Regions from separate parts of the Homo sapiens genome. Here region 1 is linked to region 2. Evidence: fine-mapped expression QTL. Tissue or cell type: whole blood. Region 2 holds a variant in brackets; the other region holds the start of a gene. All regions are shown on one strand. Distances are between the middles of the regions.

Evidence for each region. PIP is the estimated chance that this variant, and not a neighbour inherited with it, causes the effect.
Region 1: DNAAF9 starts here. The variant in region 2 is fine-mapped to the expression of DNAAF9 in whole blood (TOPMed, PIP above 0.99).

Annotation. Positions count from the first base shown.
Region 1 is chr20:3,403,906-3,412,088 of GRCh38, forward strand. It overlaps DNAAF9 (dynein axonemal assembly factor 9), which reads right to left and starts at 3,764. Exons shown (of 37, transcript NM_001009984.3): 1 at 3,570-3,764. The coding sequence starts at 3,652. RefSeq lists silencers at 3,428-3,507, 3,568-3,807, 3,848-4,097 and enhancers at 4,088-4,287, 4,664-5,165.
Region 2 is chr20:3,432,959-3,441,141 of GRCh38, forward strand. No RefSeq gene overlaps it. Among named protein-coding and RNA genes, the nearest start is that of DNAAF9, 29 kb to the left of the region's middle. The variant C/T (reference allele first, on the strand shown) is at 4,130.

The DNA.
Region 1 (8,183 bases), 29 kb before region 2:
AGCCTTCCGAGTAGCTGACCTACAGGTGACTGGCTTCATTTTCTCTTGAACCCACTGCACCAAAACTGTTCTTGTCAAGGTCACTAGTGACCCTCCACATTATCGAATCTAATTGTCTATTATTAGTCCTTTTGTTTTCTTGAGATGGAGTTTCACTCTTGTTGCCCACACTGGAGTGCAATGGCAAGATCTTGGCTCACTGCAACCTCCACCTCCCAGGTTCAGGTGATTCTCCTGCCTCAGGCTCCCGAGTAGCTGGGACTACAGGTGCCTGCCACCATGCCCAGCTAATTTTTTTGTGTGTATTTTTAGTAGAGGTGGGGTTTCACCATGTTGGTCAGGCTGGTCTCAAACTCCTGACCTCAGGTGATCCACCCACCTTGGCCTCTCAAAGTGCTGGGATTACAGGCGTGAGCCACCGTGCCCAGCCTGATTACTAGTTCTCATCACACTGTCAACAATCTCATTCGGCTTTCAATGTCTGTTCTCAATTATTCTCCCACCTCAGAGGTAGGAAACCATTTTCTCTCAGAACTTGGAAGACACTGCTACACTGCCTTTTCTTCTTCTAGTGTTCTTAATACTAATAAATGGCAACTCCATTCTTTCAATAGCTGAGGCAAAAACCGACTAGGCCTTCTTGTATTATTGTTCTTTCGGCCGTATTTCTTCCTCAGTACTTATGACTCACTATTCTATATTATGATTTCTACTGTTACTGTCTCTTCCCCTTTACAAAAGAGTTATTTGAGGGCAGGGGACTGCTGTATTTATCTGACTCTACAGCACCTAACAGAGTACTTGTTGCATAATTTATATAAATAAACAGTGAAATTTAAACTATTAAAGAAGTTTCAAGCAGGAACAGATCGCTCTACAGAAAAACATTTTGAAGTAGAAAGTATCTTTCAGCTAGATTTCCACTGGTTCCTTAGCATTGATCCAGATAGGTTAGTTTATACCTTGGTAATAAGTCCAAAATCCCGGTGGTGTTTCACTTCTTGCTCAACCTACCTGTCAAGCATAGGTCACCTGGAAGCTAGCTCTGGGGCCTTGACTGATGGGTGGCTGCCATTTGCAGCCCCAACAGCTACCATGACAGAAGGAAAGAGAATGGAAAACTACACAACAGAAATTTGTACCATGAAAGGCTACACAGTATTCCCACGCATTTCACTGACCAAAAGCAACTCTTAAGGCCATACCTAACTTCAAAGAAGCAAGCAAGTAAAATTCTACTACATGCTCAAGAGACAGAAACCAAAAATACCTGGTAAGACTGATGACTATCACATGCTTAAAGAGAAGCCTCTCATTCTGAGTAACAATATTTTAATTCTTGATCTCCATTCTCCATCTGTGAAAATGAACTACCGTGCTAGAACCATACACTTGCAGAGTACTATCTATGGGTCTTAGGAATGTCACTTCACCAGTTAGGTTTGCCCCTTCCATCACTCAGCAGTCAGCAGCAAAGCCATATATGGGTGACAGGAAAGTGCTAGTAACATTCAATGTCAAGAGTAAGGGAAAGGCTTGAATGGGCAAGAAAAGCACGTTCAATCATGTAGAAGTGGGGAAAGGAGGGAAGCCTTCAGCAAATTTCTTTCACCAAAGGTATTGGGGGCAGCTAGGCCTTGGGGTTCCTTGCACTATTCCTTGTCTGAAATCAAATTTTATTCAAACCACTTGATAGAAGATTTGGAGTTCGGGTATGATCAGTAAAGTGAGCCAGCATACTTCTTTGAACATAGAATCACTACCTTTAAAAGAATAAATAAAAAGCACATGGCCATGCTACTAAAAACAAGAAAGGCAGCATTTAAGAGACAGATTCTAAGGTAGAGATGATTTTTTTCCCCCTAAAGATCTCAACAGACTCAAATCCAAATTCCTAAGCTCAAGATGATCTGGGATAAACCTCAAGTCCACACAGAGCCTAGATTTAACGGATGGCTGTTCTAAAGTATCCTATGCAATGTCTATACAAGTTCAAATACTTTCTGCTTCAGACAGTGAAACTGGCAGAAATGTTGCAAAGGATTGGAGATGCGTTACTATAAGCAGTTAAACTTGGAACTGTAAAGCCCACAAGGAATTACACTGAAGGGCAGAGCAGGAGTTCAAAAATGTCACCTGACAGATTCGAAGCAATTTAGGACTCCTAAATGCAATGTTTCATTGGTATCTACCCCCCACCTTCTCTATCCTTTATTTGTTCAACAAACATATACTGGATTCTGGGTTGTGGAAAGGAATGCAGGGAAGTAAAAAAGAAACAGGTTTCTAAGAATCAGTTTCTTGTTCTCCAATAATTTGGTCTAGTTAAAGCAAACAAACAACCCCAAAAATCAGATCAGCAAGCAAAGTTAAAACATATGCCTTAAGTACCATAACAAGAATATAAGAAAACTGTTTTAACATGTAGATTGGCAACCTCCTTTCAAGGGAACAATATATTTGCTTTGCTATGTGGCTAGAATAAGAAAAAGCAAACAACAACAAAACCCTCTCCTGTTTTAATGACAGTTTAGCAGTACCAAAGCTCATCGCTCGCATTCCCCCTCTCCCTCTCCTTCTCAAAGGTCTCTGCTGCAACCCCTCCATCATTCCAACCTCCACACTGCGCCGGCGCCCCACACCAGCTCCATCACAAACAATGCCCAGACCAACAAGATCAGCACCAAACGCATAGGGCACAGAAATCGGAAACGGATCTTCCTATATCTAAAGGGGGCGGGGAACGCTCCCCACGATCACCCCCTCCCCATACTGAGGTAGCTTGGGACTGTGTCTCTACGGTAAGGGGCCTGGCGTCCGCCGCTTTCGGAGGTTCTAGGCCTCTTTCCCCTATTTATCCAGTTTTTCCTCCTGCGTCCCTAATACCTCTACTTCCTCCCAACCCGAGCTCCCTATTGTGGAGTGAGGGGGCGTCGCGATGCAGGCTGAGGCAGGGGGAGCTGGGGAAACGCGCGACAGGGGAGATGCTGTCATTATGTACGTAGGGGGCGGGGGACACTCTTTAAGGAAGCCGTTGTCAAGGGCAAAGGCTCTAGAGACCCACGGGAGGGGGCTTTCTAGGTAATCCATTTGGGGGTTCTACACGAGGGAGCTATTGTGTGTGTGGAGGTGTGAGGTCTGTAGAGTAGCAGTTTCTGAGGGAAACATTCCCTGGGGAAGGCGAGTGAGTTATTCATAGGGAAGCCTCTGTGGGGTTCTGTGTAGAAGAATCCTTCCTGGGAGAAACGTTCTATGGGGGTGAGGACGTCATAACAGTGTCTTCACAGGGAATCGCTGTCCCTAGGGAAGCCATTGTGGGGAAACCGTTGCAGGGTTGTCTGTGGGGGAGCCATTGTGGGGAAACCGTTGCGGGGTTGTCCAAAGGGGAGCCATTGTGGGGCCTCTACAGAGGGCGCCGTTCCTGGGAAAAATTCCTCCCTGAGCCGTTCAGCAAAGAACCGTCCCGAGGAAGCCATGTCGGACCACGCCCTGCGGCGGGAGGCGTCGCCGGACCCCGACAGCCCGCATCCCCCGCCCGGCCGCCCCTCGGCTGCCTCTGCCCCGCGTACCTGACGGAGGGTGACCCGCGGCTGGAGCCGCCAGGGGACCGAGCGCGGGGCAGCCCCTGCCGGCGCGGGGGGTACACGTCCATGGCGGCGGACGACTGGCGGCGGAGGAGGACGGTGCAGCTGCGAGGGTCTCAGTTGCCCGCAGGGCGGCTCCACGCTAGCTGCGGCCGGGCGGGGCGGCAGGGCGTGCCGGGTGGGAGGGGGCGCGGCGCGCGGGCCCGGCGGGGGCGGGGGCGGGGGCGTGGAGGGGGCGCGCGCACCGAGAGCGGATGGGGGCGTTGGGAGCGGCTGGAGTTGGGGGTCGGCGCACGGCCACAGGGACCCCACTTCTTAAGCTGCGAGGCCGCCGGACCGGATGTTGGGAGCGCGTGTCCGCAGGGTGAGGGTTGCCACAGCGCCGCCCGGCCTCGTCCTCAAGCCCGGCATCATAGAGCGGGGCTCTGCGCGGCGCCCCCCGGCCACGCACACGGACGCGCCCGGGGGCGGAGCCTCTCCCAGCCCGGCCCCGCCCCTCCGCCTCTGCCCGCCCCGCCCCGCCCGACCAGCCCCGGCCTCCAGCGAAGTCTTCCGCTCCGGCGTCAGGATCCAGCGCACCTCCCCAGTACCCAGCGCACCTCCCCAGTACCCGGCTCGCTTCCCTGTTCTCCGGAACGGTGTCTTCCCGCTTCCTGGTCATCAATTCCGCACCCACCCTTCAAACATCCAATAGATTCCTAGCCGGCCTCGGGTTAGCGCAGCAGTGCGCACCCAGCCCTGCGCAGGGCATGAGCGTTAGAGGCGCACAGGATCCCAGAAGACCCCTAACCTTTACTGTTAAGATCCTAGCTCTACCGGTTTCTGCAGGGACATGTACAAGAAACTTGGGAAATACTGCACTGATAGTTGCCAGGAGTCCTGTATATACAGGACGTATTTAATGATTATTGGCCTGCGTCCTTCGTTGACCTCGTCGGAATGCCTTAAATGTCCTGTATTCATCTTTTTACACTAAATTGCAATAATTAGAGCTATTTTTCTCCCACAGTAATTGGTGCTAGATCACTTAAATTACAACACTGGCTGAAAATCCTTCCTACACTAATGAAGATTTGGACAATCCCTATGGTGTCTCCTTCAGGTTTGGCTGAGGGAAGACCAGAAGGGAGTAGGAATTTAAAGTGCTCGTCTTTCATATTCAAGAAAGGAAAATACTTTTTTAGCTCAAGTCCGGAGTCGTGAACAAATAACCACCATTATTTAGAGATAACTTCTCGTCGGTGCAGCAGCTCTGAAAATCAGCCAATCAGCGATAGCCTCACTCCGGTAACTATGCTTCTTAGTAAATCAATGACAACCCCACGCTTCTGAAAGTCAGCCAATCAGTGACCGCTCTAAGCCTCCGACAATAGCCAATCAACAAGTGCCTGACACCAGCGACCAGGCTTCCGAAAGTCAGTGGGTACTCAGCTGCCGCACTCCACTTCTGATTCGGAAAGACAGCCAATCCCTGAAGGCGAATATTTCCAAAACCATTTTTTTTTCTTTCCCAGACTGAGTCTCATTCTGTCGCCCAGGCTGGAGTGCAGTGGCGCGATCTCGGCTCACTGCAACCTCTGCCTCCCGGTTCAAGCGATTCTCCTACCTCAGCCTACCGAGTAGCTGGGATTACAGGCTCCCGCCACCACGCCTGGCTCATTTTTGTATTTTTAGTAGAGACGGGTTTTGCCATGTTGGCCAGACTGGTCTCAAACTCCTGACCTCAGTTGATCCGCCTGCCTTGGCCTCCCAAAGTGCTGGGATTACAGGCCTGAGCCATCGCGCCCGGCCTTTTTTTTCTTTTTCTCCTTTTTTTTTGGAGACAGAGTCGCACTCTGTTGCTCAGGCTGGAGTGCAGTGGCGTGATCTCAGATCACTGCAACCTCTGCCTCCTGGTTCAAGCGATTCTTGTGCCTCAGCTTCCCAAGTAGCTGGGATTACAGGCCTGTGCCACCAAGCCTGGCTAATTTTTTGTATTTTTAGTAGAGACAGAGTTTCGCCATGTTGGCCAGGCTGGTCTTGAACTCCTGGCCTCAAGTGAATCGCCAGCCTTGGCCTCCCAAAGTGCTGGTATTACAGGCGTGAGCCGCGCCCGGCCTTCAAAACCTTTTATAAGATCAGCTCTGGCTTTGTTCAGAGAGGCTGTACCTTACAAGTACCGCTCTCCCTTGCAAGCAGAGAAGAAATTCACTTTTTTTTTGCATCAGATATTGAGTTCAATTTATTGTTTTGTCCGAGTTCAAAGTTCACAGCTCAAGATTCAATTCCCAGTTACTATTTGGTATGAGTTTGGACTTATGACAGACGCTATGACACCGTCATGAGATTTATCAAATACAACTCTTTCAATTCTTTCTATGCTTGCAGTGATCAATTTTTTAGCTCAAGTCCAGAGTCATGAACAAGTAACCACCATTATTTAGAGATAACTTCCCATCGGTGCAAAAGCTCTGAAAATCAGCTCTAAAAACAATTCAACGGGGCTACACGTGGTGGTGCACGCCTGCAGTCCCAGCAATTTGGGAGACTAAGACAAGTGGATTTCTTGAGCCCAAGAGTTTGAGACCAGCCTGGGCAACGTGGCAAAACCTCATCTCTCTGTCTCTCTCTCTCTATATATATATAGTTTATTTATAAAAATATATATTTATATTATAATTTATGTATACAAATATATTTCATATATGCACACACACACAAATTGGCCAGGCATAGTGGCATGTGTCTGTAGTCGCAGCTATTCAGGAGACTGAGATGGGAGGATCGCTTGAGCCTGGGAGGTCTAGGATGCAGTGAGTTAAGATCAGGCCACTGCACTCCAGCATGGGGGACTGAGTGAGACCCTGTCTCAAAAAAAAAAAAAAAAATCAATGAGTATAGGCACAGATTTGTGCAACCACCACCACAATCAATTTTAGAACATTTTTATCACTCCAACAGGAAAATCCTGTACCTATTAGCAGTCATTCCTCCATTTCTTCCCAACCACCCCAGCCCTAGGCAACCACTAACCTTTTAATTTGCCTATTCTGGACATTTCATGTTATCAGCATCATTCAATATATGGTTTTTCATGACTGGCTTCTTCCATTTAGCATAATGTTTATAAGGTTCATCCATGTTGCAGCATGTATCAGAATTTTGTTCCTTTTCATGGTTGAATATTATTACATTGAATGGATATACCACATCTTGCTTATCCATTTATCTGTTAATGAACAGTCAGATTGTTTCCACTGTTTTGCTATGTTTTGTAGCTAATGCTATTATTAACATTTGTGTACAAGTTTTTTTGTGGACACACAGTTTGTTTCCTTGGCGATCTAGGAGTGGGTTTCTGGATCACATGGTAACTCTACGTTTAACCTTTTGAGGAACTGCCAAACGGTTTTCCAAAGTGGCTGCACCATTTATATTCTCACCAGCATCATATGTGGGTTCTAATTTTTCCATATCTTCCCTAATACTCATTATCTTTTTCACTATAGCCATTTTAGAGGGTATGAAGTGGTATCTCATTGTGGTTTTGGCTTATATTTCCTGATAGCTAATGATGTCAAGCATCTCTTCATGTGCTTATTAGCCATTTGGACCTCCTCCTTTTTTTTTTTTTTTTTTTTTTTTTGAGACGGAGTTTCACTCTTGTTGCCCAGGCTGGAGTGCAATGGCATGATCTCAGCTCAACGCAACCTCTGCCTCCCGGGTTCAAGCGATTCTCCTGCCTCAGCCTCCCGAGTAGCTGGGATTACAGGCATGCGCCACCGCGCCCAGCTAATTTTGTATTTTTAGTAGAGACGGGGTTTCTCCATGTTGGTCAGGCTGATCTCAAACTCCCGACCTCAGGTGATCTGCCCACCTCAGCCTCACAAAGTGCTGGGATTACAGGCATGAGCCGCCGTGCCTGGCCTATACCTCTTCTTTGGAGGAATGTCTGCTCGAATTTTTTGACCATTTTTACTTGGTTACTTGTCCTTTTATTATGTTGTGGTAGCTCTTTATATAGTCTAGATATAAGTACCTTATCAGAAATACAATTTGCAAAAATTTTATCCCATTCTGTGGGTTGTCTTTTCACATTCTTGATATTGTTGTTTGAAACACAAAACTTTAAAATTTTAATGATATCCAGTTTATCAATTTTTTTCTTTTGTTGCTTGTGCTCTATGTGTCATAACTAGGAAACTATTGCCTAATCCAAAGTCATGAAGACGTACCTCTTACATTTTCTTCTAAGAGTTTAATAATTTTGGCTCTTACATTTTAGATCTTTGATTAATTCCAAATTAATTTTTCTATATGATGTGAGGCAGGGATCCAACTTGATTCTTTTCCATGTGGCTATTCACTTGTCTCAGCACCATTTGTTGAACAGACTATTTTTTTCCCCATTGAATTGTCTTGGTACCCTTGTTGAAAATCGATTGTGTTATCTATTTCTTTATTTGTGTATATGTGAATCCACAAATGCCAAATTGCAAGAGTGAATTTTATGACAAATTTTCTGAAGAGTGTACATTTATTAAAGGAGAGAAAATCCATTTGCAGCTCTTTATGTGGTATGCAAGTATTTATTCAATATTGAAAATGGTGGAAAGACAG
Region 2 (8,183 bases):
CCCTTCTTTTCCATAATAAGCGTGTTTTGTTTGTTTGTTTGCCTGCTTGCTTGCTTTTTGAGACAAGGTCTTGTTCTGTCACCCAGGCTGGAATGCAGTGGCATGATCACGGCTCATTGCAACCTTGACCTCCTGGGCTCAAGTGATCCTCTCACAGAGTTGGAATTACAGGTGTGAGCCACTACACCTAGTCTTTAAATCTTTAAAGATTTGAAGTATGGAATTGGAAAAGAGGAGACAAAATTATCTAGATTTTCAGGGGATATCAACATATACTTGTAAACTCCAAGGAAACCTTGTGGTGGATAGAAAATACTCATTTCCACCCTCTCCAGAAACCTCACTAAAAAGGTGGTAAAGAGTTCTCTTAAAGATATAAAAGACAAAGATAAAGGATATGAACAAATTGTACATATAAAAAATGTTGAGCTGAGTGTAGTGGCTCACACCTGTAATCCCAGTACTTTGGGAGGCCAAGGCACATGGATTGCTTGAGCCCAGGAGTTCAAGACCAGCCTCATCAACATAACAAGACCCTGTCTCTACAAAAAATTTTTTAAAAAATAGCTGGGCATGGTGTCACATACCTATAATCCCAGCTGCTCAGGAGGTTGAGGCAAGAGAATTGCTTGAGCCTGGGAGGTCGAGGCTACAGTGGGTTGTGTTGGTGCCATTGCACCCCAGCCCTGGTGACAGAACAAGATCCTGTCTCAAAAAAAAAAATATTAAATGAAAAAAGCAAGATGGAGAACACTGTACCTAGCATGCTATCATTAGTATAAACAAAAGACAGGTAGAGTCTGGATAACTGAGGGGAGCAGGAGGTCCCCAGGAAGGCCTGTTTTCCAAGGAAAGAGGAGGAACAGAGAGGACAGTGAGGGTGAGGGCGGCTGCTGTCTCCTAAATCTGTCACCTCCCCTTCTCTGCTTTGGCAGCCATTATGTCCATGGGTCTCTGGCTTGTCTTGTGCAATACTTCCTTGTGTTAAACTCCAAGATATCAATGGGCTGATGAGAGTTCCAGCGTGAGCTACGTGACTGGATGGGTGCTTGGAATAAGAATCCCATGCCCCAGAGAGCAAGACCAGCAAGACAATACTGACTAAGCCACTTTCCCCTGTAAGCCACCCTGGACCCACTTCTCAGTCCTAAGGACTAATGACATAAACTGGATGATGGTCACATAAAAATCTTGGTGAGATGCTGGAAGTCTAAAGTGGTCCCTTTGGGATCATAATGTAAGAAAGTGGCTTCAAGGCATATTTCAGCATAGAGTAACCTTGGCATTGGAAGCACTTTGCAAAAACATAAGAGGCCATGCTAACTCTTTTCATACAACAGAGGCCTGGCAGGTGACATTTCCAGAGGGAGAATGGAAGATTCTGAGAGCACTGCACAAGAGTCTCCCTTAGACACTTCTAGAACATATAGGAGGCTGTGGTAGAAGGGAACTGAAAGTTCAAAGTGTTGATCATGTGCACTGACTAAGCCTTTGTATTTAAAATCAAGATGACATCATAACGGCCTGATTTTCTTTCTTTCTTTCTTTCTTTTTTTTTTTGAGACGGAGTCTCGCTCTGTGGCCCAGACTGGAGTGTAGTGGCGCAACCTCGGCTCACTGCAACCTCTGCCTCATGGGTTCAAGCGGTTCTCCTGCCTCCCCAGGTAGCTGGGATTACAGGCATAAGGCACCGCACCTGGCCAACCTGATTTTCTTAAAAATAAATCTGGGTTTAGATTATTGGTAGAAACATTAAGTGATGTTGTGTCTTCTCAGTGCAACACACCAGTCAATTTTCACGTTGATGGTGATGCTAAGTGTAATCTGATGGTCAACGTGGTGACCTTCAGCTCTCTCTGTGGTAAAGATACGTTTTCCCTTTTGCGATTACTAAACAGCCTGTAGGGTGATACATTCAAACCTTATGAATATCATTTTTCCCAACCCCCTTTATCCTAATAGTTTTACATTCCATTGATGATGCCTGCCTGAATCAATTATTAATAGACTGGTCATAAAATGATGATTTTTCCATTTCTATCATTCCATCTACATTCACAATTTGGCATTCTTTTATGAAGAAGAGCTTTCTTTTCTTTTTTTTTTTTGAGATGGAGTCTCACTTTCTTGCCCAGTCTGGAGTGCAGTGATGCCATCTTGGTTCACTGCAACCTCTGACTTCCAAGTTCAAGCAATTCTCCTGCCTCAGCCTCCCAAGTGGCTGTGATTACAGATGGGCATCAGGACGCCTGGCTAATTTTTGTATTTTTAGTAGAGATGGGTTTTTGCCATGTTGGCCAGGCTGGTCTTGAACTCCTGACCTCAAGTGATCCACCCACCTCAGCCTCCCAAAGTGCTGGGATTACGGGTGTGAGCCACCTCACCTGGCCCTCTTTTCTACCCCCTTTAAAATTTTTGGTGTTGGCCAGGTGCAGTGGCTCACGCCTGTAATCCCAACATTTTGGGAGGCTGAGGTGGGAGGATTGCTTGAGCCCATAAGTTCGAGACCAGCCTGGGCAACATAGCAGGATCTTGTCTCTATTAAGAAAAATAATAATAAAATAAAATACCATTGTTGGTTGTTTTATTTATTTATTGTGGTGGTTGTTGTTTTGAGACAGAGTCTCTCTCTGTTACCCAGGTTGAAGTACAGTGACATGATCATAGCTCACTGTAACCTCGAACTCTTGGGCTCAACTGATACTCCTGCTTTGGCCTCCCAAAGTGCTGCGATTACAGGTGTGAGCACAGGCCAAAATTTTTGGTGTTAATATCAATAGAGACACATGGATTCCTTTTGATTCAATATATAATAATCCATTCCTGCATTATTCATATGAGGCTGAGATTGTCCCAGATTTTGACATGAGGGCCTCCATAAAAATGTAGATTGCAAGCCACCTTCTCCCTCTCCTCCAGTGGGGCCTGGGATTCTGCATATATAACTACCACTAAACTAAAATCTGAAACACCCACTAAATCTGAAAAGTTGAGGAAAAGCCCTTGCCAAGGACCAGCTGAGGAGTTTATGTTAAGAGTGGTTTCACACCCACCAGGCAATACAGCTAGAACTTGACAAGGGCATCCTCTGAGGCAAAGAAGGCCAGAATGCCAGCAAACGAAGATGCATCTTCTGGAGGTGGAAGGGGGTGAGGAAGAAATGGAGAGGTCAGGGCTGGAAAGGAGATGCTTATGGTTTTTTTCCTGCCTTGGGAAGACTATAGCAGACAAGATACCTATTAATTCTTGCAACATTACAGCAATGGTTTTTCTGAGTAATAGGAACAGTTTGCTTCTATCCCCAAAGATGGAGAGCTCTTTGCTATTTGGAACCAAGTGTTGATATAGTCAGGAAAAGACCTGGATCAAGGGAGTGTATAAAGCACACAAGTGCACACTGTCACTCTTGCTGAACACTCCTGGTGAAATGTAGAAAAGACATGAAAGAGGGAAAGTAATACATCTACAGCAGCATCAGGAAACTGAAAAGCCAAAAGGCCAGGCATTTGATGAAAGTCCTGGACAATAGAGAGCAGGAGGAAATGTGGGATCAAAAAAGCAGAACTGGGCCAGGCTTGTTGGCTCACACCTGTAATCCTAACAATTTGGGAGGCTGAGGCAGAAGGATTGATTGAGGCCAGAAGTTTAAGACCAGCCTGGGCAACATAGTGAGACCCTGTCTCTACCAAAAAATAATATAAAATAAAAATTTTTTAAAAGTGGGGAATTGAGTCCATGCATTTGGGCCTACGTCCTCTCCAAACCTCACTAAAATAACAGTTAAAAAATAAAAAGGACAAAACTCACAAGGACAAAAAGAACAGACATTGAAACAAGATTGAGCTAGTGATGTCGAGAATAAATATTTCAGATGTTCTAGGCCAGGCATGGTGGCTCAGGCCTGTAATCTCAGTATTTTGGGAGGCTGAGGCAGGTGGATTGCTTGAGCTTGGGAGTTTGAGACCAGCCTGGACAACATGGTGAAACCCCATCTCTACCAAAAAAAAAAAAAAAATTACAAAAATGAGCCAGGCGTGGTGGCACACACCTGTGGTCCCAGCTACTCAGGAGGCTGAGATGGGATGATAGCTTGTGCCTGAGAGGTCAAGGCTGCAGTGAGCCATGAACA[C/T]GCTGCTGCACTCCAGCCTGGGCAACAGAGTGAGACCCTGTCTCAAAAAACCAAACAAAACACATATTTCAGACATTCTCACCTGACACAGGTATTAAAGAGGAAATGATTCCACACTTGGGAAAATGGCAAAATTATGATTGCCTAATTCCTGAGATCTTAGGGGAACACTTTTTCAAACCCTGTTTCAATAAAAGCAGAACCTGCATCCTGGGAATTTACCCTCATGGGACACACCAGGGGAATGAAATTCCATTGCCACAATGTATGTAATCAATCCATAATGATTGAAGAAACAGACAGTTTTATGGTTCTATAAAGTTACAGTTTAACTTTAGAGACTAATAGGTTCTATGTTTTTATAGCCTGGTATAGTTTAACTTTAGAGACTAATAGGTTCTATGTTTTTATAGCCTGGTTGTGTGGTTAAATACAATGATTTTATTGCCCTGTGGAAAATTAATCAGTCTTGAATTTTACCCAGCAAATTGTCCTTGGAATTCCTTTAACTCTAGCTCTGTTCGTTTGTGCGAGCACACGAGGGTACACACACACACACACACACACACACACACACACACACACACACACAGAGTTTTTCTTTTTTTTTTTTTGAGACGGAGTCTCGCTCTGTCGCCCAGGCTGGAGTGCACTGGCGCAATCTCGGCTCACTGCAAGCTCCGCCTCCCGGGTTCACGCCATTCTCCTGCCTCAGCCTCCCGAGTAGCTGGGACTACAGGCGCCCGCCACCACGTCCGGCTAATTTTTTGTATTTTTAGTAAAGATGGGGTTTCACCGTGTTAGCCAGGATGGTTTCGATCTGACCTCGTGATCTGCCCGCCTCGGCCTCCCAAAGTGCTGAGATTACAGGCTTGAGCCACCATGCCCGGCCTCTTTGACATTTCAGTGTGTGAGTCCATCAGAGCATAACTGTTATTATCTTTCTTCTCTTTTTTTATCTTTGAGATGGAGTCCTGCTCTGTCGCCCAGGCTGGAGTGCAGTGGTGCAATCTCGGCTCACTGCAACCTCTGCCTCCCAGATTCAAACGATTCTCCCGCCTCAGCCTTCCGAGTACCTGGGATTACAGGTGCATGCCACCATGCCAAGCTGATTTTTGTATTTTTAGTAGAGACAAGGTTTCACCATGTTGGCCAGGTTGGTCTCAAACTCCTGACCTCAAGTGATCTGCCCTCCTCAGCCTCCCAAAGTGCTGGGATTACAGGTGTGAGCCACCATACCCTGCCATAACTGTTATTATCTTGAAAGCATGTGTTTTTATGGGTACTGGGACATCTGAACTCTCTGACGGAGGAGTGCGTCCTCGTAGGTGTCTTTATGGTCTTTCCTCAACTATAAACATCTGTAATCATGGGTAGTGACTGGCAAGGAATGTGCCCTGTTAGTCTCCAGATGGAGCTGAACTTTTAATTTGGCTCTTCTAGGCTCCTGCTTCCCTAACACAAAGTCACAAGTTTCTGCATTGAAAGGTCTTACCAGGAACCTAGAACAATGAATTAATTAAAAAATATCCACACAGGCTGGGCACAGTGGCTCACGCCTGTAATCTCAGCACTTTGGGAGGCTTAGGTGGGAGGATTCCTTGAGGCCAGGAGTTTGAGACCAGGCTAGGCAACATAGAGAGACCCCATCTCTACAAAAAATTTAAAACATTAGCTAGGCATTGTGGCATGTACCTGTAGTCCTAGCTACTTGGGAGGTTTAGGCAGGAGGACTGATTTAGCCCAGGAGTTTGAGGCTGCAGTGAGCTATGATTGTGCCATTGCATTCCAGCCTGGCGACAGAGTGTGACTCTGTCTCAAAATACATACACACACACACACACACACACACACATACGCACACACAGAAATTAGTATGAATTCATATTTATGTGTGTGTGTGTGCATATACACACACCCACAGATGAGTAAATACAGAAATAACTTTAGAAATAAATGTGTGTCTAAATGGATTAGTATACACATACATATTATTCTAACCCTCTGCTAAGAGATCCAAGAGCAGTGACACCCAATAAAACAAGCACATCCAGTGCCCAGATCTTGGTTTCTAAACCAAGAATGGTTTCTAAATACCATTCTCTGATTTTAAAAAACCAGGGCTTCTTGAAAAAATGACTGAAGCTATTTCAAGGCAAGGAAAATGCAAGATGAGCCCAGAGCACCTGATAGACCAGAAGGCAAGGAAGTACTCAAGAAAAAAAAAAAGTCAGAGGGATACCACAGCCAACTCTGAGGAGTTTCCAATGGCCAAAGCCAGACCAATTTGGGAACCAAAATAAATAATGTGGTATTGGATTGTAACCCAAAGTGTAAATAAGTATAGATGAGGCCATATTTACAGAGAGAAAATGATTGAAAAATAAATGACAGAAAAGGGACAAATTTCCTTATAGAAGAATTTCAAATAACATAAGTAGCTATGCTCTCCACCTTGCAAAAAGAAGTTTACTTCTTCTCCCCAACCCCTTTGAGGGTAGGCTGGACTTTGTGGCTCACTTCCAAATAACAGAATATGGAAGTGGGAAAAATGGTAACTGTGTGATGGAGAAACCTGGAAATACCACCTTAACCAAGTGATCATGGTTAACATTATCAGTAATAAGAGTATATTACTTGTGCTATTCTTCTCGAAATCCCATAAGCCCAGTCTAGTCCTGAGAAACATACCAGACAAATGCAAACTGAGAAACATTCTACAAAATGCTGGATAGTACTCCTCAAAACCGTCAGGGCTATGAAAACAAAACAAGACTGGGAAACTATCACAGACCAGAGGAGACTAAAGGGACAGGATGAATAAATGCAATATGGTGTCCTGGATTGGATCTTGGAACAGAAAAGGGGCATGAGTAGAAAAACTGATGAAATTTGAATGAGGTCTGGAGTTTAGTGAATAGTAACATACCAATATTGGTTTTTTAATTTTCACAAATATACCATGGTAATCTCATATGTTAACATTAGGGAAAACTAGGTGAGGGGTATATAGGAATTCTCTATATTATCTTTGCAACTTCTCTGTAATTTTTTTTTTTTTTTTTTTTACCAAATACGTATTTTTTTATTATGTCACAGCAAGAAAGAGCATAATCTGATTTATGTTATAAATTCCAACTAAAGAAGTGATTCATTCAATCTTTATACATATGACAAATATTTAATGAGTATCCACTCTGTACCAGATAGTGTTCTGGGCACTGTGGACACAGAGATGAGTAAGACAGTTAAAGCCCTTGCCCTCACGGAGCTTTCATTCTAGGGGATTCTGGGAAGGCAAAAAGAAAGCAAACAGTCCAGTTAAGATACCACTGCAGAGTCCACATGATGGATCATAATGGTTTCTTTTTTTTTTTTTTTTTAATTGATCATTCTTGGGTGTTTCTCACAGAGGGGGATTTGGCAGGGTCACAGGACAATAGCGGAGGGAAGGTCAGCAGATAAACAAGTGAACAAAGGTCTCTGGTTTTCCTAGGCAGAGTGTGTGTGTCCCTGGGTACTTGAGATTAGGGAATGGTGATGACTCTTAACCAGCATGCTGCCTTCAAGCATCTGTTTAACAAAGCACATCTTGCACCGCCCTTAATCCATTTAACCCTGAGTGGACACAGCACATGTTTCAGAGAGCACGGGGTTGGGGGTAAGGTCATAGATCAACAGGATCCCAAGGCAGAAGAATTTTTCCTAGTACAGAACAAAATGAAAAGTCTCCCATGTCTACTTCTTTCTACACAGACACGGCAACCATCCGATTTCTCAATCTTTTCCCCACCTTTCCCCCTTTTCTATTCCACAAAACCGCCATTGTCATCATGGCCCGTTCTCAATGAGCTGTTGGGTACACCTCCCAGACGGGGTGGTGGCCGGGCAGAGGGGGTCCTCACTTCCCAGTAGGGGCGGCTGGGCAGAGGCGCCCCTCACCTCCCGGACGGGGCGGCTGGCCGGGCGGGGGGCTGACCCCCCCACCTCCCTCCCGGACTGAGCAGCTGGCCGCGCGGGGGGCTGACCCCCCACCTCCCTCCCGGACGGGGCG